7 linked regions of the Homo sapiens genome follow. The protein of the gene in region 6 purifies or fractionates together with the protein of the main gene of each other region. This does not show direct contact. Each region holds a gene or a part of one and is shown on either strand. Other genes may lie near its edges. The genes, in order: CALU, ACAD8, GLUD1, SPTA1, SFXN4, PTPN22 and SLC25A19.

What was found.
Region 1: the proteins of PTPN22 (region 6) and CALU purify together in Homo sapiens (affinity purification with mass spectrometry, with the first as the bait; one large-scale study listed by BioGRID). This does not show direct contact.
Region 2: the proteins of PTPN22 (region 6) and ACAD8 purify together in Homo sapiens (affinity purification with mass spectrometry, with the first as the bait; one large-scale study listed by BioGRID). This does not show direct contact.
Region 3: the proteins of PTPN22 (region 6) and GLUD1 purify together in Homo sapiens (affinity purification with mass spectrometry, with the first as the bait; one large-scale study listed by BioGRID). This does not show direct contact.
Region 4: the proteins of PTPN22 (region 6) and SPTA1 purify together in Homo sapiens (affinity purification with mass spectrometry, with the first as the bait; one study listed by BioGRID). This does not show direct contact.
Region 5: the proteins of PTPN22 (region 6) and SFXN4 purify together in Homo sapiens (affinity purification with mass spectrometry, with the first as the bait; one large-scale study listed by BioGRID). This does not show direct contact.
Region 7: the proteins of PTPN22 (region 6) and SLC25A19 purify together in Homo sapiens (affinity purification with mass spectrometry, with the first as the bait; one large-scale study listed by BioGRID). This does not show direct contact.

The regions. Positions count from the first base shown.
Region 1 is NC_000007.14:128,763,359-128,766,858, reverse strand, and holds part of CALU (calumenin isoform a precursor), read right to left. Parts: intron 1-3,500. UniProt on the Homo sapiens protein: Involved in regulation of vitamin K-dependent carboxylation of multiple N-terminal glutamate residues. Seems to inhibit gamma-carboxylase GGCX. Binds 7 calcium ions with a low affinity.
Region 2 is NC_000011.10:134,263,568-134,266,355, forward strand, and holds the end of ACAD8 (isobutyryl-CoA dehydrogenase, mitochondrial), read left to right. Parts: exon of another isoform or gene 1-378; intron 379-1,340; coding exon 1,341-1,393; 3' UTR 1,394-2,288; downstream 2,289-2,788.
Region 3 is NC_000010.11:87,088,344-87,091,843, forward strand, and holds part of GLUD1 (glutamate dehydrogenase 1, mitochondrial isoform a precursor), read right to left. Parts: intron 3,281-3,500; exon of another isoform or gene 1,219-3,280; intron 1-1,218. UniProt on the Homo sapiens protein: Mitochondrial glutamate dehydrogenase that catalyzes the conversion of L-glutamate into alpha-ketoglutarate. Plays a key role in glutamine anaplerosis by producing alpha-ketoglutarate, an important intermediate in the tricarboxylic acid cycle.
Region 4 is NC_000001.11:158,641,716-158,645,215, forward strand, and holds part of SPTA1 (spectrin alpha chain, erythrocytic 1), read right to left. Parts: coding exon 3,473-3,500; intron 2,682-3,472; coding exon 2,538-2,681; intron 1,781-2,537; coding exon of another isoform or gene 1,711-1,780; coding exon 1,607-1,710; intron 1,262-1,606; coding exon 1,099-1,261; intron 828-1,098; coding exon 696-827; intron 1-695.
Region 5 is NC_000010.11:119,148,715-119,152,214, forward strand, and holds part of SFXN4 (sideroflexin-4), read right to left. Parts: intron 1-3,500. UniProt on the Homo sapiens protein: Mitochondrial amino-acid transporter. Does not act as a serine transporter: not able to mediate transport of serine into mitochondria.
Region 6 is NC_000001.11:113,858,213-113,861,712, forward strand, and holds part of PTPN22 (tyrosine-protein phosphatase non-receptor type 22), read right to left. Parts: intron 1,249-3,500; coding exon 1,140-1,248; intron 867-1,139; coding exon 790-866; intron 362-789; coding exon 266-361; intron 1-265. UniProt on the Homo sapiens protein: Acts as a negative regulator of T-cell receptor (TCR) signaling by direct dephosphorylation of the Src family kinases LCK and FYN, ITAMs of the TCRz/CD3 complex, as well as ZAP70, VAV, VCP and other key signaling molecules.
Region 7 is NC_000017.11:75,286,634-75,290,716, forward strand, and holds the start of SLC25A19 (mitochondrial thiamine pyrophosphate carrier), read right to left. Parts: upstream 2,801-4,083; 5' UTR 2,721-2,800; exon of another isoform or gene 2,456-2,720; intron 1,959-2,455; 5' UTR 1,869-1,958; exon of another isoform or gene 282-1,868; intron 170-281; 5' UTR 132-169; coding exon 1-131. UniProt on the Homo sapiens protein: Mitochondrial transporter mediating uptake of thiamine diphosphate into mitochondria. It is not clear if the antiporter activity is affected by the membrane potential or by the proton electrochemical gradient.

The sequences.
Region 1 (3,500 bases), on a different chromosome or scaffold from region 6:
GTCCCACTTTATAAAAGAAAGGCATATTTTCAACCATTTTGAAACTAGAGTGTAAAAAGCTCCAAGATAATGAAAAAGAAACAATTAGAAATACTAGTGTCTGGATGGGCGTGGTGGCTCACACCTGTAATTCCAGCACTTTGGGAGGCCTAGGCAGGCAGATCACCTGAGGTCGGAGTTTGAGACCAGATCACCTGAGGTCAGGAATTTGAGACCAGCCTGGCCAAAATGGCAAAACCCCATCTCTACTAAAAATACAAAAATTAGCTGAGCATGGTGGTGCGTGCCTGTAATCCCAGCTACTCGAGAGGCTGAGGCAAAAGAATCACTTGAACCCAGGAGGCAGAGGTTGCAGTGAGCCGAGATCATATCACTGCACTCTAGCCTGGGCGACAGAGCAAGACTCCGTCTCAAAAAAAAAAAAAAAAAAAAAGAAAAAGAAATACTAGTGTCAGTCTTGAGAATGCAAATGCCTGAAAAAAAATGAATAAATTCGTTTGCATGTCAAAAGGTTTTAAATTCTTTGCTTTAAAAAAAAAAACCTTGAAAAATGGCCTAATTGAGTTTTAGCTAAGGGATCATTAAACATAATTTTTGGGCTGGGTGCAGTGGCTCATGCCTGTAATCCCAGCACTTTGGGAGGCTGAGGCGGGTGGATCACTTGAGGTCAGGAGTTTGAGACCAGCATGGCCAACATGGTGAAACCCCGTCTCTACTAAAAATAAAAAATAAAATTAGCCGGGCGTGCTGGCCCACACCTGTAATCTCCAGCTACTGGGGAGGCTGAGGCAGGAGAATCGCTTGAACCCCAGAGGCAGAGGTTGCAATGAGCCGAGACCGTGCCTGTGTACTACAGCCTGGGTGAGAGAGAGAGACTCCACCTTGAAACAAACAAAACCCATAATTTTTGATGATAGATTACATGATTTCTGGCATGTAACTCAAAAGGAGTTCCAAGAACTAAGCAATATTGCTATGACAAATCTTCCATCAACTTATTTACTAATGTAAACAAGGTCTGTTAGTACTTCCTCTAAAAAATAAAAATTAGGAATTGGTGCTGAATCCCATTTCACTCTAGGGATAAGTAATTGTCATCCATGGATATGAAACTATTTGAATAAAAATGTGTCAAAGAAATGCATTTAAAAATATATAAACATAAAACGTCTGTAATAAATGTTATTTTGTTCAATTGTGTATTAATAATTGTAATAGTAACTTAACACAGAAGACTCTAAAAACACTTAAGAGCCATATCACAGAACACCATTTTCCATATTTCAATTTACATACACAATGTTCTTGCAAATAAGAATGTCAAAGTGACTAAGGCTTCAAGATAAAATATGTCAGAATATAATTCTGTTGAGGAAGTAAACTGCAAATGAATCTAACAAATAGAAGGCTGACTTGTGAGTTTGAGATCAGCCTGGACAACATGGCAAAATCCCTACAAGAAATACAAAAATTAGCCAGGCATGGCAGCATGCACCTACAGTCCCAGCTACTCGGGAGGCTGAGGCAGGAGGATGGCTTGAGCCTAGCAGATCGAGGCTGCAATGAACCATGATCATGCCACTGCACTCCAGCCTAGGTGACAGAGTGAGACCCTGTCTCAAAAAGAAAAAGAAAAAAAAGAAACAGGAGGTCGGGTGGCTGATGTCTGTAATCCCAGCACTTTGGGAGGCCAAGGCAGGTAGAGCTCTTGAGCCCAGGATTTCCAGACCAGCCTGGGCAATGTAGGGAGACCCATGTCTATAAGAATAATAATAAAAAAAATCAGCTGGGTGTGGTGGTGCTCTTCTGTGGTCCCAGCTGAGGTGAGAGGATCACTTGATCTCCCCACCTTGGAGATCGAGGCTGCTGTGATTGTGCCACTGCACACCAACATGGGCAACAGAATGAGACTCTTGTCTTTTTAAAAAAGAAGAAGAAGAAGAAACAGGATGCGTGTAAAATGTCCAAGTTGGTTAACAGTTTATTCATTTATTTTTTTAAGACAATATCATGTGGTGACTGATAAGTAGTATAAATATCCCCAAATCCCTATAAATTTAAACAAAAAAAAGGGCAATTAAGTGATGGTCACATTGTTGCTAACCAAACGCCATAACTAAAAAAAAAAAAGTACCAAAGAAACATTTCCTTTTTAACTATTATGAAATGTAAAAAATTACGGATATTTTCTTATATACCCACAATGCCACTTTCATATTTTACAAAATCAATTCCTTGGTATCATCTAATACCCAGACTGAATTTAAATTTCTTGATTATCTTTTTAAAGTTGTCGTGTCCAAATTATTCATATGAAAGACGGCAGGTAAGAAGTTGCTATGGTATCTTGTATTTAAATTTTATAGATTTCTTTCCGAATTACTTTCAAAATGTCAATGCTTATCACCAACAGAGATTATTCTTTTTTCTTCTGAGACAGGGTCTTGCTCTGTTGCCCAGGCTGGAGTGCAGTGGTACAATAACGGTGCACTGCAACCTCAAACCCTCAGGCTCAAGTGATCCTCCTGAGTTGCTGGGACTACAGGCACACGCCACCATGCCTGGCTAATTTTTTCTTTTTTTTTGTATTTTTTGTAGAGACAGGGTTGCGCCATGTTGTCCAGGTTGTTCTCAAACTCCTGGGCTCAAGTGATTCACCTGCCTCAGCCTCCCAAAGTTCTGGGATTACAGGAATGAGCTACGGCATCCGGCCCAACAGAGACTATTCTTTACAACTGTTTAAATTTCTTAATTAAATATTTCAGATGCCAACTTTAAAACACATAAGGGAATGCTGTTGGTCAAATTCTTTCAGGAGTTATTTAAGTGAACAAGTCTGAAAATGCTTGAGTTATACGACATCTAAGTTAAGTGTACCTGCATTGCATGTAAGGTATGGGAAAACACCTAAAGAGAAATCTAAATAGTTCCTGCAAGTTCTAAGCAAAGGTAATTATTTAGTCAGTGCTGCCATTTTCCTGACCTTGAGGGTTAAGGGTAGAAGTACTCCTCTGTCTTAAACTCACAAGAGAAATTCCTCACAGCAGGACTTGCCAATTTTTTCCCATGCTACAGCACATTCAGAAAATGTAGTTTGTACGGTCCACTGGATCAGGTTCCTGCCCTAGCTGTCCTGAAAGCCAAGAAGACTTACTCACAGGATACAGATTGGAAAGTTCTGAATTAGGAAATAGACACATGCTTAAAAGATATGGTTTTAAAGGAAGCTAGAATACACAATACACTACAACGTAAGCGCATTTTAAAGCTAGGTGACCATGATAAACTATTTGAATTTCTATTTTTATTTATTTTACTTTATTTTTTTGAGACAGAGTCTTGCTCTGTCGCCCAGGCTGGAGTGCAGTGGCGCGATCTCGGCTCACTGCAACCTCCGCCTCCTGGGTTCAAGCGATTCTCCTGCCTCAGCCTCCTGAGTAGCTGGGATTACACAGGCACATGCCACCACACCTGGCTAATTTTTATATTTTTAGTAGAGA
Region 2 (2,788 bases), on a different chromosome or scaffold from region 6:
CTTTCTTCTGCAAACCTCATTCCAGAAAGATGTTTATGGGCTCAGTCGCCAGTGTTCAAACTGAATTCCCGAGAGTCGTTTTCCTTCCATTACTCTTGGAATTGCTTTCTCACTGAGCTTTATGTGCGTAGGAAACTTCGCCTTCATTCTAACTCTCTCTCCACCCTGCAATAATAAGCAGGAAAACATTTATTGTAGGCCACACCATCACCCACTTACAGAAGAATTGGGGCACTCATCACTGTATCACTTTGTTTCATCATGGACTTTACTGTTGGATAAATCTACAGTTTATGCTTTATTTGAGACGATGTGACTACTGATTCCTCGAGGGGGTTTATATTTCTTTTTGCATTAAAGGCCACTGCTAAAAATGAAGCAAATAATTGATACCCTCCTTTCAGGGAAAATGTTTTCATTCTTTTGTAAGTCAGTTTTCTGATTACCAAAGAAATGTGTATTTATTGTTGAAACCTTATAAAATTAGGAAAAGTAGGCTGGGTGCGGTAGCTTATGTCTATAATCGCCGCACTTTGGGAGGCTGAGGCGGGTGGATCGCGTGAGGCCAGGAGTTCGAGACCAGCTTGGCCAACCCGGTGAAGCCCCGACTGTCTAAAATTATAAAAAGTTAGCTGGGCGTGGTGGTGCATGCCTGGAATCCCAGCTACTCGAGAGGCTGAGGCAGGAAGATCGCTTGAACCCAGGAGGTGGAGGTTGCAGTGAGCTGAGATTGCACCATCGCACTCCAGCCTGGGTGACAGTGAGACTCCATCTAAAAACAATACAAAAAATTAGCCGGGCCTGGTGGGGCCTGGTGGCACATGCTTGTGGTCCCAGCTACTCAGGAGGCTGAGGCAAGAGAATTGCTTGAACCTGGGGGGCGGAGGTTGCAGTGAGCCAAGATCACACCACTGCACTCCAGCCTGGGCGACAGCAAGACTGTCTCAAAAGAAAAGTAAAAGAAAAAAAATCACTCATGTTTCTACATCCAGAATGTTATTTTGGTACATCTCCTTTTAGGCATTTTACTCTGCCTTTGTTGGTACATTTTTAATTTTAATTAGAATTATCCTGTATATACTGTTTTTATTCTGCCTTTTTAAACTTTATATAAGCATTTTTACCATCAGAAGAAGTTTTTAAAAAAGTATTATTTCCTGACATTTTTCAGTACTTTGTAGAGAAGTCTCTGATAATCTCATCTCTCCCAGGCTAAAAGCAATGATTGTAGTTTAAATCTGCAGCTACTCTGAACTAGGCCTGGAGCAGCCTGGTCAGAGCTTTACTAAACTCTCAGACTTTGCTGCTGTGAAATTCTTCCTCCTTCCTCCCTCTTACAGGTAGCAATGAAGTGATGAGGATACTGATCTCTAGAAGCCTGCTTCAGGAGTAGAACCCACACTTGTTCTGGCCTGGTGTTCAGTGCGACTGCAGTCAGTGTTGAGTGGTGCCATGTGGGCCGCTCTATTCCAAAGGAATCATGGATTAGACCCAAGGGCTGAGCTCCTCTAGGGCAGGACCTGCACCCTGTGTGTTGGCACCAGCATCGGGTCTTGGACTGGGGCAGAATCCCCAGTGGAACCGGAAGAGCTGGACTGATGAGAAACATCAGAAGAACACATACTACCTTGTTTTCCTAATGCCAGAAGGGTGACCAGTGAAGATTCACCGTCAAACCATGAAAGTCCTTTCTTGGATCCACTTTATCTTGATTAGTCTGCATTTTACTAGTTCACTGGATCCCTCCTCTAGGGGCCTGGGGACTTTCACTGATGCTCTTCCTGATTCTAGAGCAAAGGTGTGGGAAGGGGAAATGGAGGAATGCCCTCCTGTCTGTGTCGTTCTCTGTGCCACAGCTACAGATGCAGAAGGTTTCTCTGGATAGCACACCTCTGAATGTAAATCATGATAAAATGGATATTTGGAAACTTACTCCTAAGCTGTGATTTAGGGTGTATTTCTACTTCTGGACTGCCTCAATATCAAGGGCTGAGACTTTTGAATTTTGAATATTCGTTGGGTTTCATGTTAAGAAGCCTGTGGTCTAGGAGTGCTATTCAGTGTTTCTTTTCCTGATAAACACTTTGAATATTTTTTTTGTGTTTTTGTTTCCTTTTCTGAAGCTGTTCCTCCTTTTAAATATTTTTAATCACATTGATAAAATCTATCCTTCACCACCTCTGGTTCTACTATAGTTGATTTTTATTTTAAATGTTTAATTGTATTTGATTAAACACTTAACTGGATTTTGGAATAATAAAACTCTCGTCCAATTTGGCTTTTAAAAAGCAGGCTCCTTAAATTATTAATAACTTTGCAAACTAAGCATTGTTTATGATGTATGAAAGTAGAATTAAAGTGAGATTCACAGATGGGACTTCAGGAGACCTTGTTTTGTTTGTTTGTTTGCTGTTTTTTGTTGTTTTTGAGACAGAGTCTCGCTCTGTCGCCCAGGCAGGAGTGCAGTGGCACAATCTCAGCTCACTGCAACTTCTTCCTCTGGGGTTCAAGCGATTCTCCTGCCTCAGCCTCACAAGTAGCCGGGACTACAGGCGCAAGCCACCACGTCCGGCTACTTTTTGTATTTTTAGTAGAGACAGGGTTTCACCATGTTGGCCAGGCTGGTCTCAAACTCCTAGCCTCAAGTGATCTGCCCACCTCGGCCTCCCAAAGTGCTGGGATTACAAGTGTGAGCCACTGTGCCCAGCCAGGGGAGCTCTGTTATAACTTACTATGTTACTCCATCCCCTCATCCCTATTGAAAAGAATACGCAAGACATTAACTACA
Region 3 (3,500 bases), on a different chromosome or scaffold from region 6:
CTTTGTTTTTTTAAAAGAACCCTCTGCATAAAGTTCAGAGATCTTGCCTGCAGGAACAAAAAACACATAATAGAAAAATTGATTTACTTAGAATATAGACTATAGTTCATAATAAAAGCAGTCCTTATTTGGTAAACCTTCAATACGAGTACATCACCCTTGGTTATTTCTTTGCTCTTTCTCTCTTGGCATAAAAGAAAAAAAAAATTCATGCAAAATCCTACTAAGGCCCAATATGTACAAAATATCTTTTAAAAGTCCTATGTTGATATATTTGTGATAATGACAAACGATAAAAGAAGTCATACTACTGACAACCTTTGAAATTTTCATTTGTCATCTTTCACATTTTCCTCTAGCCTAGAAGCAAATCAGAAGAATTACGTCTGATAGACTTTCTCCAAGAATAATAATCAAGAGAAATAGCAATTCATAATAAACAAAGCATTTTCTTAGTTTTTAATGAAGAAAACTAAGAAAGTAATTTCAAAATTATTCAATAGAAAATCTTTAAAGATAAATGGACTACACACTGGTAGAGAAATGAGTTGTTCTGGCTAACACATTAATCTCTTAAACACCAAAGTCTTCAAACCTCTTTTGATGGAAAACTGTTTAAAATGTTATTTCAGGTCTTCGGAGTTGGGTGTAGGGGAAAAAGGTTATTTCATTTCCTTAGCAATTAGAATAAATGGACCTCTAGAGATATCATCTATGCTGAGTTTTATATGCAAAGCTGTTTGAATATGTATTTTTCTAGGAAGAAGGTAGGTCTTCTAATAGCTTTTAACAGAAATTTCAAAGGTATCTATGATCCAAAGTATTAGGAAGCATTGTGTCAATGGCATGAAGTGGTTCTCAATCAGCGCTTACAATTAAAAGCCTAAGATACAATTTGTAACTTTTTGCATAAATAAATCCCAGACAACAATGATTAAGGTGGGTGCTGGAATCAGATGCCCAGAATCTGAACCTCAACTCCACTACGTACTAGCTGTGTCACCCTGCCAAAGGACACTTCACTCCTCAACCTTAGTAGCCACATTTGGAAATCAGGGACAACAGTGTATTGCATGAGGCATAAAAGCAATGATACATGAAAAGTTCTTACATGCATTGTTGCTATAAGGCATAGAACTGATGATGCATGAAAAGTTCTTAATAAAATGCCTGGCACACACAGAGCTGAATAAATGTTAGCCTTTGCTAATATCTGACCTTGGTGAAGGCAGTTGACCTCAAGTGAAGGCAGAATGTGTGTGGCTGCAGAATCTTCTAGGTGTAGTTGCCTTTTTGTAAAGATAATCGGAAGGTCTTGAGTAGCTCCTTCTCCTAGTTTGTCTTCTTGTCCTTAATAAAGCCTTTCCTGCCTTTAACAGTAGTATTTCACATATTAACAATTCCGACTTGATAGTGAACACTTGAATCTGTATTAATTTCTGCCTCTGGAAAGGGGAAAATATTGATTCATTTGAATAACTAGTCAGTTTTAGACAGCGGCATTAGATTTAAGACTGTTCATGGTTATATTGGGGGAAGGACTTGGGGTAGAGCTGCTTCACTTTTCATTTTGTAACTTTCGTTACTATTTGATTATGTGAATCATGCATGTGTATTTTATGGGTTGCTGAGTACAAAATTTATGGGCTATTTATGAATCAATGTGCTCTAAAGTGATACTAGAGATTTTTCTCTTTATTACTTACATTGTAAAAGCCTAATTATTGGGTAAAATAAATAGAAAAGAAGAACAGTCACGTGGCAGAGACTAGTGTCTAGGATTTTTTCAACATCTACAGGTTAGTATTTTAGTTTTTAATGGTTACAGAACCCTTAGTATTTTTAACATAAGTAAATAAAAACCGATTTTCCTAAGCACTCTGAATTATTAACAGCGGTAAACCTAATTTCTTCCCACTATATGCCAAAAGTTCAGGCTCAATTTTTATTTCTTGTACTTAAACACTACAAGTTGTACTGAACTTTAATATATATTGGTGCTTAGGATCCAATTTTTGATGCCCTAATTCTTACAAAGTATACTTTGGATAATGAGTGAGCAGCTGTTTGTCTTCCTGCACGTGGGGCTTTACTGCCAAAAGCAAACTTGCTAAATGGATTCATACACGCAAGTGACAGAAAGACTGAAATCTGATGTACAGATCACTACCATTACCAAGCGTCTTCATTTTCTAGTATACTTTGGGAGAAAAGACGCATTTGGCTTCCATGAAATAAAAAGGCATAAGGGCAACACATTTCCGTATTTAAATAAGATGTATTAAAAACAACAACCTCGGGGCTAAGTGCTTTTAAAAGACACACAAATTACCTATCCTCTGACTGAACTTTCAGAAAAGTCCTAAATTAAATTCACCTACAAAGGTTATATTTTATCTGTGGCAGCAGATGCAGACACACAGCCACTTAAAAATATTAGAAACTGTGAGTTTATTAAAAGTTACCTAAGTTTTGATGGTTGTCAATTGAGCACAGCAAAATAAGTCAGAAACATTTTTTCCCCCAGTGAAGGCAGAGAAATATCTCATTTTAAATCAGTATCAGTGCTTTCTATAGTCTTCCCTTAAGCGCTAAACAATGACATCCCAGAGGCTGAGGGCGTCTTTAACACTGCATTGACTCCGGTCTTCCCTTGCATTATGTCATCAAGATTCCACTGTTTCCTTCTGGCATTTTGACTTTTAAAAACTAGTTACTGGATTAATATAGGGTACACTTTTTTGGGTACTAATATTTGTAATTAAAAGACTTAGGGTCAATGTATGAGAGAACTCCATCTACGGTCCATCAACTATATGTAAATTATGATAATTTTAGAAAATTTTATGATAGTAGCATCAGTGATAGGGAATTTTAATAGTTTTAATATCAAGACAACTGGGGGGGGGCAGACTGGAAGAGAAAGTTAATTGACTCCTACCATCAATAAATTGCTATTATCAATCTGTACTTTCCCTCCAAACTGACTTTAAAACAATAAACTTCCTTCTAAAAAGGTAGACTGGTCTCAGGCAGAACCATAGCAAATGAAATACAGATAATTTACTCTGGGAAAGTTAATAGAACAATCTTTGATAATATTTCCAAACCCACCAGAACTTTTGAACCAGTCTTCTCAAATCAGTCGCATATTCTCACACTATGCCCCTTTGCTGGAAATATTTTTAAGGCCTCACTTAAACTTCCCTTCAGATCCTTTAGCTTACCCTTTCAAATCCTTAACACAGACAAATCTAACGGCCTCAGGTACATGTAGTAACTGGGAAAAGAAAAGCACAAAAACAGTGTGTATTATTAAATATTTACTTGGAAAAAGTACACATCAGCCACCAAGTCTTATAACCATCTGTTTCCCTTAGAGATTATTGCTAGATTGTTGCTTTGCTTCAACCTCAAGAATTTTAATTTAGAAAACTCAGGGATAAGGTTGTTCTTGAGGGAAAATGAGATACAGAAAGCTGAAGGTTGGTAAAAGGGTG
Region 4 (3,500 bases), about 45 Mb from region 6:
TGTAAACTGGTTCAACCATTGGGGAAGACAGTGTGGCAATTCCTCAGGGATCCAGAACTAGAAACACCATTTGACCCAGCCTTCCCATTTCTGGGTATATACCCAAAGGATTATAAATCATGCTGCTATAAAGACACATGCACACATATGTTTATTGCGGCACTATTCACAATAGCAAAGATTTGGAACCAACCCAAATGTCCCACAATGGTAGACTGGATTAAGAAAATGTGGCACATATACACCATGGAATTCTATACAGCCATAAAAATGATGAGTTCATGTCCTTTGTAGGGACATGGATGAAACTGGAAACCATCATTCTCAGCAAAGTATCACAAGGACAAAAAACCAAACACCGCATGTTTTCACTCATAGGTGGGAACTGAACAATGAGAACACATGGACACAGGAATGGGAACATCACACACCAGGGACTGTTGTGGGGTGGGGGGAGGAGGGAGGGATAGCATTAGGAGATATACCTAATGCTAAATGACAAGTTAATGGGTGCAGCACACCAACATGGCACATGTATACATATGTAACAAACCTGCACATTGTGCACATGTACCCTAAAACTTAAAGTATAATAATAATAAAATTAAAAAAAATACAATAAATTAAAAAAAAAGAAAGAGTAAATGATTCCTCTTCATGTGACTTTGTAGCCCAAAACTCATCCTGAGCTTTACCTTCATGGCCTCTTCATTGCCATCACAAGCGCTACACTCAATCAGGGAGTTCCCCAGGTTGATGACGCCATGCACCTGCTCAGATCGGCCATCGACTTCATGTGCAAAGGTCTGGTGTTTCAGGTATTTCCTCTGAAGGGAAAATGAAACAGAAATTATATTATCTTTTTATTTATGGTGACAAGATAAGGTAAATTGTATTTAAAAGGAAGGGCTAATATTTCTATCATAACTGAGGTGACGGTGACTTCTGAAGAACCTGCTCCACATCAGACTCTGAAGTCTCTGAGAGCAGGCATGGTAGCCTCAACAGTCAGAAAGTGTTAAAGTATCAAGGGTGATGACTATCCAACCAACAAGCTCGGAATGGTGAAATTTTCCAAGATTCCTATTTTGAACTTGCCTGAATGTTAGTGGCGTCTTTGTAGGATTCATCACAGGCTGTGGGCAGCATCTCACTGATCCATTCTTCCAGCTCCTCAAGGTCTCGGTAGAATTGTTTTAGGTTGGCATAGTCTCCAAGCTTTGTCCGCTCATCAATCAGTTGTGCTTTGAGAGCCTTCCACCTAGAGGACGGAGCCAAATCACTCTATGCCCTCCTCCACCCTTCCCATGCTCTGATGCCATATCCATAAATCTTCCCATTTGCCAACATGCCTCTTTTCTTCTCACATAGTCTTATTATTTTCATTATAAAATGCAGTGCTAAAGCCAGTTAATTTCTAAGGTATCTTTCATCTTTCATGTCTTTCATTCTATAAATCTAAGTCAGAAAGTCTGCATAGGTGTCAAGATAGTTTTAGTCACCTAGAAATGACAGGAAGCCAGAGTATTCCCCCATCTCAATGCTAGCAAAAAGGTCAGTTTGCTATATCTTCCTTTGGCACATAAAACAATCACTCAGGCCTGACCTGTCTAGTACACGTTGGAGCCGCGTAGCAATCTCTTCTTTGGCATAGTGTTCATCAGCAATGAGGCTCTCAGCAAAATGTTCTAGGTCAGTGATCTTCCCTTCCTAAATAAAGGAAAAGGAAAGAGCCCAGATGCTTGGAGATTAGGCTCTTGGTGCAATCCCAGACTCCCTCCTAGAAAAGAATGAAGGTATCCTTTGTGGATTCAGAAGATATACTCAGGGTCAAATAATATATGCCTTACAGGGAGGTGGGTTTCAACTTAATAGGAGGAGAAACATCTAATAATGGGCTACTTGTGTGGTACAGAGTTCCCTAAAGAACAGACACTTCTCATGACCATTGTAGAGGGTGAATCCTTTATTGAGTGAGATGATGAAATGACTATTTAATCAATCCTAAAAGTCAGAGTTTAGAATGCTGGATTTAAAGTAAGAGAGTCTGCTTGCTGCCTGTGACTTGGGTGAAACAATGTCAAGTGTCAAGCTGCCCTGCCTGCCTCAGTTTTTCTGTAAGAAGCAAACAAGAATCAGGGCTGGGCACGGTGGCTCACTCCTATAATCTCAGCACTTTGGGAGGCCGAGGTAGGTAGATCACTTGAGGTCAGGAGTTCGAGACCAGCCTGGCTAACATGGTGAAATCCTGTTTCTGCTAAAAGTACAAAAATTAGCTGGGCATGGTGGTGGGTGTCTGTAATCCCAGCTACTCAGGAGGCTGAGGTAGGAGAATCACTTGAACCCGGGAGGCAGAGGTTGCAGTCAGCCGAGATCACACCACTGCACTCCAGCCTGGGTGACAGAATGAGACTCCATCTCAAAAAAAAAAAAAGTAAATCAAAATGTTTATAAATTATAAAACCAGACAAATGTGTAGGATTTCTGTTATTATTACTACGGATTATTATTTTAATTCCTTTACTAGTCATTATTACCTGGGCAGTGATTGCTTTGTCCAAATCGTCCCGTTTCTTCATCAAAGCCTCCAGACTGTCTAAGGAACTTTTGTCATCTGACCTCAGGGAATTCTCACGTGCCACCATCCAGCTCTCAACTTGATCACAGTTCCCCTGGAACATCTATGAGGAATCAAATGAGAGGGGTATGGTATAGTCCATGTGGTGTGGAGGAAATGATGTTACACCTCTTTCAGGATCATGACACAAAGGGTTTTGCAAGGAGTACTTACCATCTTCCAAGAAACACTCATGTGACAAATCTTAGCTGTACTGGAACTTTTCCTCTTTTCCAAACATACACTTTATGTTTCTGTATATGCTACCTCCAATTCCTGGGGTGCTATTTCCTATTTCTTAAACCTTGTTAATACTGGCTGGTCATTTCCTTAAGACTTTGTGAAACGTTATCCTTCAGGGTAGCCTGTGACACAACCACTTACTTCCCCCAAAAGCTTTAATCACTTCTTGTTTTTTAGCCTCAAAGCACTCGTACATTTTGGTTTATTAATAATCATCTCACTGTACTAGTAAAATTTATCTATATGTCTAATTTCACTATTTAAGAAATGGGAAACTATCTTACTAATCTTTGTGGCACTCCGAGCCTCCACAGAGTAGAGTCTCAACAAAAATCAGCCAATCAATTCCTCAGTCAATCAACAAATGATAGTCAACCCACCTCATGCTCAGGACTGATCACCATCTTGTTTGGCTCTTCTAACAAGAAAGAGCAGAGAATATGACAATGATCGGTATAGAAAGCATAGTACAATGCTAGGTAATTAAGAGATGAGCTCCCTTTGTGTTTATAACGTGGAAAGTCTAGTGAACGGAGCCTGTAATGACCATATGAAATTGCATAGGAGAAACAGACTACTGAACCTGCTTAACAATTGGGAAATTTGCTGTACCTGCAACTCCAGGCACTGGTCTAGGATC
Region 5 (3,500 bases), on a different chromosome or scaffold from region 6:
TTTTGTAATCTTTTCTATAATGTACATTACTCTATACATTAAACATTTAAACATACAATTTACTGTATGGGTGAGTATGTACAAAACCATGTACCCTCAAGGGCACTTTAAGGGACTTGTAAGGGAAATTTTGACTATAAGACAGCTCACGTTAACTTTTTTACTACTTTCATTTATTTATTTATTTTTAGAGACAGGGTCTCACTCTGTCATCCAGGCTGGAGTACAGTAGCGTGATCACGGCTCACTGCAGTGTTGACCTCCCAGGCTCAAGTGATCCTCCTACCTTAGCCTCCCGAGTAGCCAGGATCACAGGTACACCCTACCAGGCCCGGCTAACTTTTCGATTTTTTGTAGAGATGTGATCTCACTATGTTGCCCAAGCTGGTCCCGACTTCCTGGCCTCACGCAATCCTCCTACCCCAGCCTCCTGAGTAGCTAACATGTTAACTTTAGAACCCACCCCTGGGTAAGACACACACACCACAAACAGCACATCGTGTACCCAAGAGGAGCAGGCACACCTGCGCCCGTCCTTCCCTGAACTCTGTTCCTTCCACTTCCAGCTTCCCATGATTGGCTTTGACCTACCTTCCCAGGCTCCTCCTACCACCCGGCCCCTGCTCTCTGCTTGCACCTCTGCCCTGCTGTGGGTGACAGTCACGCTTGCATGGTTCCCTCTGCAGGGAATGCCTTTCCCCCCCACAAAAGAGAGGAAGCCGAGGAGGGCTGTTTTTAAAATAAGGTCTTAAGGGCCGGGCACGGTGGCTCATGCTTATAATCCCAACACTTTGGGAGGCCAAGGTGGGCAGATCACCTGAGGTCAGGAGTTCAAGACCAGCCTGGCCAACATAGTGAAACCCTGTCTCTACTAAAAATACAAAAATTAGCCGGGCGTGGTGGTGGGCGCCTGTAATCCCAGCTACTCGGGAGACTGAGGCAGGAGAATCACTTGAACCTGGGAGGCAGAGGTTGCAGTGAGCCAAGATCACACCATTGCACTCCAGCCTAGGCAACAGAGCGAGACTCAGTCTCTAAAATAAAAGAAAATAAAATAAAAGTCTCAGGGATATAAAGTAAAATTGCTTGACTTCCGGAAGGGAAAAATGGCTGTTAGTGTGCTGTGTGTCCACATCAGTGGGGCGAGGCCCGCCTCTCTCCCTTAGTCCCATGTGTGGGGAGGACACTCCAAGTGAGACGCCGTCATTAGGAGGCGCTGTGTGCAAAGCAGTGGCTTATGGGGCCAGTCGGGGGAAACAACAGCCACGCGTCACCTGAAATTGGACCAACCGTGCCCTGTTACCATCAGATATTGCTGGTTACGCAGTTTCTGAAATTTTAGCCGAAGAAAATAACCTTCCAGGGACAGGGAAGTGATAGAAGAATGCTTATGCACAGTTGCAGACACTTTATTCTTCAGAGAAAAAAAAGACCTTTTTTTTTTTAAAGTAGACCAGTAAAGCTTTTCTTTGACCCTAACATGCCCCTCATGCCAAAAATGAAGTTTCTTCTGGTGAGATGGACTCCAGACAGCCAGTCAGGCCTGAGGCTACCTTTCCGCTGGAGGCTGGGGCTGCTGGGGAGACGGGGCTCTCACTGATCAGGGTGTGGGTCTCCAGAGCCTAGCACCAAGCCTGGCAGGCAGGAGGTGCTGGGAACAACTTGCTCATTGGATATTTGCTCTAAGCTGGGTGCAGTGCCTCACACCTCCCAGCGCTCTGGGAGGCCAAGGCAGGAGGATCACTTGATGCCAGGAGTTTGAGACCAGCCTGGGCAACATAGCGAGACCCCATCTCTACAAACTTTTTTTTTTTAACATTAGCCATGTATGGCGGTGCACACTACTCAGAAGGCTGAGGCAGGAGGGTCGCTTGAGCCCAGGAAGTTGAGGCTGCAGTGAGCCATGTTCGTACCATTGCCCTCCAGCTTTGGCAACAGAGGGAGACTCTGTCTCTATAAATAAATGAATAAATAAATAAACGAACTTAAAAAAATGTGCTCTCACTCTCCTCTCCAGCTTTATGAATAGGTCAGAGCAATACTAACACCTTAAGTTCACATGGAGTTGTGGAGAAATACAAACACACATATGCATAAAGATGTGCAAGTGAATGTCGGAGCAGCCTGATTCATAATAACCCAAGCCTGGACACAACCCAAACGTCCACCGCCGGCAGAATAGATAAGCAAAATGCGGCACATCCAGGAACGGAATACTACTCAGCAATGAAAAGTAACAAATGAGCAACATGTGGTACAAGACGGATGAATCTCAAACGTGAAAGAAGCAAGACACAAAAAACTACAGTGTGATTCACTTATGTATAATTTCTGGAAAAGGCAAAAACTAAGAAGACAGAAAAGCAAGTCAGTGGCCAGGCATGGGGGCTCACGCCTGTAATCCCAGCACTTTGGGAGGCCGAGGCGGGTGGGTCATGAGGTCAGGAGATCGAGACCATCCTGGCTAACATGGTGAAACCCCGTCTCTACTAAAAATACAAAAAATTAGTTGGGCGCAGTGGCGCATACCTATAGTCCCAGCTACTTGGGAGGCTGAGGCAGGAGAATCGCTTGAACCTGGGAGGCAGAGGTTGCAGTGAGCCAAGATCGCACCATTGCACTCCAGCCTGGGCGACAGAGTGAGACTCTGACTCAAAACAAACAAACAAAAAAAAAGAAGCAGATCAGTGCCTCCCTAGGGCTGGGGGTGGGGGTGGGGGTGGGCATTTGGGACATTTTTAGGATGATGAAAATGTTCTACAACTGGACTGTGGTGATGGTCACACAACTGTTTCATTTATTTATTATTATTATTTTTTGAGACAGAGTCTTTCTCTGTCACCCAGGCTGGAGTGCAGTGGCGCAATCTCAGCTCACTGCAACCTCTGCCTCCTGGGTTCAAGTGATTCTCCTGCCTCAACCTCCTGAGTAGCTGGGACTACAGGCATGAGCCACCATGCCCGGCTAATTTTGGTATTTTTAGTAGAGACAGGGTTTCACCATGTTGGCCAGGCTGGTCTCAAACTCCTGACCTCAGGTGATCTACCTGCCTCAGACCCCTCAGAGTGCTGGGATTACAGGCGTGAGCCACCGCGCCTGGCCTATGTTTTATTTTTTGAGACAAGGGTCTCTTTCTGTCACCTAGGCTGGAGTACAGTGGTGTGATAATAGCTCGCTGCAGCCTCAACCTCCTAGGCTCAGTTGATCCTCTCACCTCAGCCTCCTAAGCAGCTGGGACTACAGATGCACCCCGCCATGCCTAGCTAATTTTTTAAAAATTTTTTTGTAGAGATAGGGTTTTGCTATGCTGCCCAGGCTGGTCTCGCACTCATGGACTCAAGCGATCTACCTCCCAAAGTGTTGGGATTACAGGCATGAGTGAGCCACCATGCCTGGCTGCACAACTGTTTTAAACTGACTAAAATTCATCAAACTATCCTCTTACAAATGGGTAAATTTTACAGTATGTAAATTATACCTCAATAAAGCTGTTTGAAAAA
Region 6 (3,500 bases):
ACTCCCAGCTAATTTTTGTATTTTTTGTAGAGACAGGGTTTTGCAATGTTGCCCAGGCTGGTCTAGAACCCCTAGGCTCAAGCTATCCACCCCTCTTGGCCTCCCAGAGTACACCTGGCTGAGAACTTTCATTTCCTTGGACAAGAATGGCATTGTGATTCTGACTAAAAGATGCCTGAACCCTGAAGTTCCACTGACCAATTTTTTAAAAGCACTGTTTTTAATAAAGTAGAGAATAAAGTAACAAAAGCAACACCATACTTACAAGGACACTATATTCCCAAATCATCCTCCAGAAGTCCAGGAGGGTTGTAGATAAAGGACCCTGGGTGGCAATATAAGCCTTGGGTCCATAAACTCCCTAAAGGGGAACAGAAATTACACGGGGTGACTACAAATAATACCCTGTTCTCACCTAGTCCTCCGCTTCCTTTTTTTTTTTTTTTTGAGATGGTCTCACTGTGTTACCCAGGCTGGAGTGCAGTGGCATAATCACAGCTCACTGCAGCCTTGACCTCCTGGCTTCAGGCAATCCCCTTTCCTCAGCCTCTCCAGTAGCTGGGACTACAAGCGCATGCCACCACACCTGGCTAATTTTTTAACTTTTTGTTGAGATGGGGTCTCATATGTTGCCCAGGCTGGTCTGAAATTCTTGCGTTCAAGTGATCTTTCCGCCTCAGCCTCCCAAAGTGCTGGGATTACAGGCATGAGCCACTGAGTCCAGCCAGCCCTCCCCTTTTTTTGGGTATCTAGAGAAATATGGAATGCTTTTATTTTCTTTCACTGTACCTTAATGAAGTTGGCATTGATGTAGCTGGAATCCTCATCAGAGGTTATCAGGGATAGTTCTACCCGGCTATAATCATCTATAATACAAAAGACAGACATAGTACAATTAAGAGGGCTTAGTCAGCAGATTTAAATCAGGGCCTAACACTGTGAATAGTGTATGCTCATGAGTGAACAAGTGAGTGAATGAATGAATGAATGAATGAATATTCTTTTGCAGTCATAAATAGTACAAACTAAGTTGTCAATGCCATGTTCCAAGATCAGGATCAGTAAGCAATGGGTACAAAGAGATAGTAATGATTGAATTTGGGAGAAAGTATGAGTTTATAGAGAGAAATGGAACTTACAGGGCAAAATATCCTTATATCTGTTTTTCTTGATATTCTTGGGCTTCTCAGCCACAGTTGTAGGATAGGTTTTGTCTGCCTTGTACTTGGTAGATTGCCTTTTCAGCTTCTGTAATAAGATTCCAAGAAAAATTAATCTTCCTAGAGAAATGAGGTAAGAAGCTATCTCTAAAGAGCTTTCCTTTTCCACTGGCAAAACATTCTACCTCAACCCTTTTATTATCTTCTGGTTCTGACTCCGTTCAGGACAGAGCTGCAGAGCATAAGGAGACCTGAGTTCAGTGACATTTGGGGAAGTGAAAAGATCACACTTACTGCAGCTGAGCCATAGATAGCGTGAACTTAAAAGTGAAACTTGTGAATATTTTAAGAACCAAATATCTTCTGGAAGCAAGCTATATGCTCCACCCAATGGGCAGATATTAAAAGCTTAATTTACTTTCTTTATAACTGCTTTTTAGTTAAATGGTCAACTGGAAAATAATTAAGTTCTATTAGTCTTTTTACTTCAGATCGCTTTTTTTTCTAAGTGGAAGTGGAGCTTAAGCTGAATAAAATTTCTCTATATCTAGCAAAATTTCAAAGATTTCAGTTCCAAAAGCAGTCACTTTTTTTTTTTTTTTTTTTTGAGATAAAGTTTCACTCTGTCACCCAGGCTGGAGTGCAGTGGCTTGACCACAGCTCAATGCAGCCTCAACTTTCTGGGCTCAGGTGATTCTTCCACCTCAGCCTCACCTCCCACCTCAGCCTTACCTCCTGAAAGCTGGGACCACAGGCACAAGCATCACACCTGGATAGTTCTCATATTTTCAGTAGAGAAGGGATTTCACCATGTTGCCCAGGCTGGTCTCAAACTCCTGGGCTCAAGCAATGCACCTTCCTTGGCCTCACATAACTTTTATTACTGTAGATTATCATAATTGTTCTATTGTATTACTAGCTATTATTGCTAATCTCTTATTGTGCCTAATTTATAAATTGACCTTAATTATAGATATGTATGTATAGGTAAAAACAACATAGTGTACGTAAGATTTGGTACTATCTGCAGTTTCAGGCATCTACTATAGGTCTTCAAACACATCCTCCGTATATAAAGAGAGCCTACTGTAGTTTGAATTCCTCTGGATTTTCAGAACTGGATTTGAGAGGAGAGATACTGAACTGATATCTTTTTGTTTGTTTGTTTGTTTAACTTTGAACCCCAAGAAGCTACTGAACTATCTTTATAGCATATTTTTACTTCAAGATGGATATGGATACAAGTGGACTAATTTGGGAATTTAAGGACACATGAAAGACTAGGCTGAATTTCAGCTGAAGTTACACCAATTTTTCAAATCTCCCTGCTCTTAAGCAACTTCAGAATGATCATTTTCAGGTTGCTGTTGATCCCAGGGCTGCTGAAAAGATCTCAAGTCCCAGAACAGTTTCTTCTAGGAGTCTCCAGAACTAAGCTCAGTGCATACTCCTTGTTATACTGTTTTTATTTATTTTTGTTTTATTTTGCTTGTGGAACGCTTTCTAGGGAGAATGCTATACACAAAGCCCTTTGCGTAAGATATCCTTCAATTAATTTGGCAAAATGTTACAGATAAAGGTGATGGGTGTGTGTGTGTATGTGTGTCCTATATTTGTTTAGCTGCCTTCACTGCTACCTTCAACAATAAGGCAGAATGGCTTTCATTTTTCCTACTCCTTTCCTCCCCCTCGAGTAATCTAGCTGGATGACAAAAGCAGACACTCTTAGCAAAACATCACACAGGAAATGCCTACAGAATTATTCATTTGTAATGTATGAAAGATTTGATTTTTTTCCCTCAAACATCTTATCTTAAGGTCATACCACTGTGAAGTCTTCCTTTTTCTTTCTGTTTTTTTGTTTGTTTGTTTTTGTTTTTGTTTTTGAGACAAAGTCTTGCTCTATCGCCCAGGCTGGAGTGCAGTGGCATGATCTCGGTTCACTGCAACCTCTGCCACCCAGGTTCAAGCAATTCTCATGCCTCAGCTTCCAAAGTAGCTGGGGTTACAGGCGCCCGCCACCATGCCTGGCCAATTTTTTGTATTTTTGGTAGAGACGGGGTTTCACCATGTTGGCCAGGATGGTCTGGAACTCCTGACCTCGTGATCTGCCCGCCTTGGCCTCCCGAAGTGGTGGGATTACAGTCGTGAGCCACCGCGCCCGGCCAATTTTTTTTTGTATTTTTAGTAGAGACAGGGTTTCGCCATGTTGGCCAGGCTGGTCTTGAACTCCTGACCTCAAGTGATCCCCCCACCTCGGCCTCCCAAAGTGCTGGGATTATAGGCATGAGCCACCGCGCCCGGCAGGCTTCATTTTTCTCTTCCACCTCTCTTCCTGCC
Region 7 (4,083 bases), on a different chromosome or scaffold from region 6:
TGGAAACGGATCTTGATGACGTCGAAGGGACTGATCAGCGCCCGAGTAACAAGTCCAGACACAGACCCAGCCACTGCCACCTGGAACTTGGTGTTATTCCTGCCATCTGGTTTGGGGTCATAGCCAACCATCCCTGCCTCTGGCCCACACAATGTCCATCAGTATCAAGCTAAATGCAAGAGATACGGAATAAACACCAGGCAAGTTTCTTATGGTCTCTGCTCAAATATCACCTCCTCAGAGCAGCCCTCCCTGACTAGACTGTCTAAAATAGCACTCACTTTTGGACTGGGCGCAGCGGTTCATGCCTGTATCCCAGCACTTTCGGAGGCCGAGGTGGGTGGATTGCTTGAGCTCAGGAGTTCAAGACCAGCCTGGGCAACACTGCAAAACCCCAACTCTACAAAAAATACAAAAATTTAAAAATAAAATAAAATAGCACTTGTTTTATTCCTCTTTACAGTACTTATTACTATGGCATATTTGTTTACTTTTTTAGAGACAGGGTCTCACTCTGTTGCCCAGGCTGGAATGCAGTGGTGCCATCATAACTCACCATAGCCTTGAACTCCTGGGCTCAAGTGATTCTCTTGCCTCAGCCTCCCAATTAGCTGTCACTTAACAGGTGCAGGCCTGGCTAAGTTTTTTATTTTTGTAGAGATAAGGTCTCAATGTTGCCCTGGCTGGTCTCGAACTCCTGGCCTCAAGTGATTCTCCTGCCTCAGCCTCCTGAATTGCTGAGATTACATGCATGAGCCACAGCGCCCGGCACGCCATGGGTTATTTATACAGTACATTTGTTTCTTGTCTCTCTCCCTGACTAGAATGTAAGCCCGTGGAAACACGACCTTGGTCTCATTTGTTCACTCGTAAATTTCCGGTTCCTGGAATAGAGCCCATCATGGTAAGTGCTTAATAATATTTGAGAATCGAATGAACAGGCTTGATAGGCAATTGTTGGTCCCAGAGATCAACTGGTTTTCCAAGACATCTGGCAACTTTATAGCAAACTCCTGCTCACTGAGTGAGCCCACTCAAGTGTAACGCTGAGGGACTGAAGGACGTGCAGGGCTGGAGAACAGGGATTGGGATTCTTTAACAATCCCCCACTGTCCAAAGGAAGAGCCCTGAGGCCCTGAGCCCCTTCACCTTTCCCTTTCCCCTCCTGCACACACCTCAGACCACCCCGGCACAGTGGGGCCATGCTACGCTAGCAAATGATGCTCCTGGCCAGGCACCGTGGCTCACGCCTGTAATCCCAGCACTTTGGGAGGCCGAGGCGGGTGGATCGCCTGAGGTCAGGAGTTCAAGACCAGTCTGGCCAACATGGTGAAACCCTGTCTCTAATAAAAATACAAAAATTATCTGGGTGTCGTGGTGGGCGCCTGTAATCCCAGTTACTTGGGAGGCTGAGGAGGGAGAATCACGTGAGCCTGGGAGGCAGAGGTTGCAGTGAGCTGAAATCACGCCATTGCACTCCAGCCTGGGCTACAGAGTGAGACTCCGTCTCAAAAACAAAAAAACAAAACAAAACAAAAAAGAAAATGACGCTCCTGGGCTCCCCTGACTCAGACCTACTGACCTCTTCAGCCTCACTCTGGACCACTCTTCCCCTTCCCTCATTTAACCAGAGTGGTCTGACTGCTTCTGCCCAGTTCCTGGAAAACTCGGGGAGCACTCCTATCAATTGCCTTGCCTCTACTCCTCCAGTTCCCTACGTCTGAAATACAGCCCCACTCTCAGCCCCTACTCACTTTTTCAAGGCTAGCTCCTCTCATCCACCAGAGCTCAGCTAAAAAGCATCCCTTCCAGGAGATGTACTTTTTTCCTTTTTTGTAAAAACAAAAAACAAAAACAGTAATACCTACATACGGTCTGTAGAGTTGTACAAAGCATAGAAAGAAGTCTGTAACCACACACATCAACAGGTAGTTGGTAACTGATCACAGGGAGAAGGGCTGAGAAGGGAAAAAGGAAGGTAGACCTGTCGATAATTCTATACTGTTTGAATTTGTTATGGCAAAAAAAAAAAAAAAAAATCCCTAAAACTAGCCTTCAGAATTACCCTAGTTCTTGAATACTTGTAGTAGTGGGGGTGGGGGTGGGGGAGGAGGGGAGATACTACCTACAGGATGGCAGCCTCCACCCCAGACATCAATTCCTTTTCTCCTCTCACCCACCCTGGAACTCCTCCCCAGGCGCCCATGAGGAAGTTTAAACACGCGGCAAGCGACTGAGAGGCAAAACCTCTCCAGGGGTTACCCAGGGACCGCTCAGGTCACACTGAGCAGCGTGTTTCCCGCCCATCTGGGCAGAAAGGAGGAGCAAGCCCGAGTGGCAGGTGTCCTGGATCGCTGTCAGGAGACCGGAGCATACCAGGCTCTTCCTGGTGTTCGGGTGCCCATGTGCCCAAGGGCTCAGCTGAGCAAATCTGCAGAGGTCCCCGTGTGGGTACCTAGGTGTCCACGTGTGCCTCGGGGTGTGTTTTTTCTCCTTGAGTCCGAGGGGACGCCCTGGAGCTCAGGTGCTCAAGGGCGTGCGCGGGGCTCGGCCGCCGGTGTCCCTGGAGATGCTTCTCTGGTCTGGTGTGACACGTGTGTACACAGTCCCCGCCCTCTCGTGAGCGCCCGGGTGCGTGTGCTCCCTCCCGACCACCCTGAGGAGCGAGGGTGCTGGTCCCCGAGAGGGCGGCGAGAAGGACGGAGGTAGAGGTTACTCACACGGCTCGGCGGGTGCGGCCCGGCTCAGCGCTCTCCGCTCTCTCTAGCTCCTCGCGCAGTCTTAACAGCAAAACTCTACTGAGCTCGGACGAAACTGGCGGGCTCCTGGGCCAATCACCGTGCAGCTCCCCGCCAGACGCTGGACCAATGGTTGTGCGCTTGAGGTCTGGCAACCGCCTCCCGCAAGATATCACCGGGTAATGTAGTCCTTCGCGACCAAGGGCAGGACAGCTGGACGGCGCACAGCTTCCTGGGAGATGTAGTCCGGCTGCTCGCGGGCGCGCGAGTTCGACCGACGCGTTAGAAGGAGGTGCCTTGCGAAGCCGGGCTGCGACCTTAGGGGTCGCCGTGCTCTGGCGTGTGACTCGAAAGTCAGCCTGCAGGCGGGGTCCAAGGTTAGGGCGCGGTAGACTTGACCCGCTTTCCTCAAACTCTGTTAATGCCAGAACCCGGATAATCTCAACTTGGTAAAGATGGCAGGAAGCCTAGCAAAAAGCTGGAGGACGTCGGGAAGAGAATAGATGAGAACAGTCCCCTCGGGGACGGGGAAGGCAAAAACACGAGTGTCCCCCCCTCTCACCCCGAGTTTTAGTATTTCTCATTATAAAAGTAATATTAAAAGTATATAGACAGAAAATATAGAAAGGAAGGAGGAAATGACTCATCCTACCGCCCGCACACAACTAGCGTCACGGTTTTGCGCGACAGTATTGCCTCCTGACTTTTTAATTGCATTTTTATATTCGTGTTATCATTTTGACGCACAATTTTAAGACATTTTTATTGTAGAAAATTTCAAGATACACAGAAGTGGAATAACCCGATGAAGCCGCGTAGAGTCGCTCTCCGACCTCAGCAGTTACGCGACTCATGGGGCAATCTTGTTTCCTCTATTTCTGCACCTACCTCGCACGCGCTGCCCAGCGTTATTCTGAAGTAAATACCATCACGTGTTTTCACCAGTAAATATTTCAGTATGTGTCTTTAAAGGACAAGCATTCCCTTTTTAATACGTATACATTATGCTTCACACACACACAAAACTGTCACTCCGACCCCCCAAAAAAACTTTTAATATCAAATATGAATTAGTGTTTACACTTTTCTGAAAGAAAGAAATGTTCTTCTTTTTTTTTTTTTTTTTTTTTTTTTTTTTTTTTTTTTTTTTTTGAGACAGTTTTGCTCTTGTCGCCCAGGCTGGAGTGCAATGGTGCTATTTCAGCTCACTGCAACCTTTGCCTCTGGGGTTCACACGATTCTCCTGCCTCAGCCTCCCGAGTAGCTGGGATTACACGCGTGCACCACTATGCCCAGCTAATTTTTTGTATCTTTAGTAGAGATGGGGTTTTGCCATGTTGGTCAG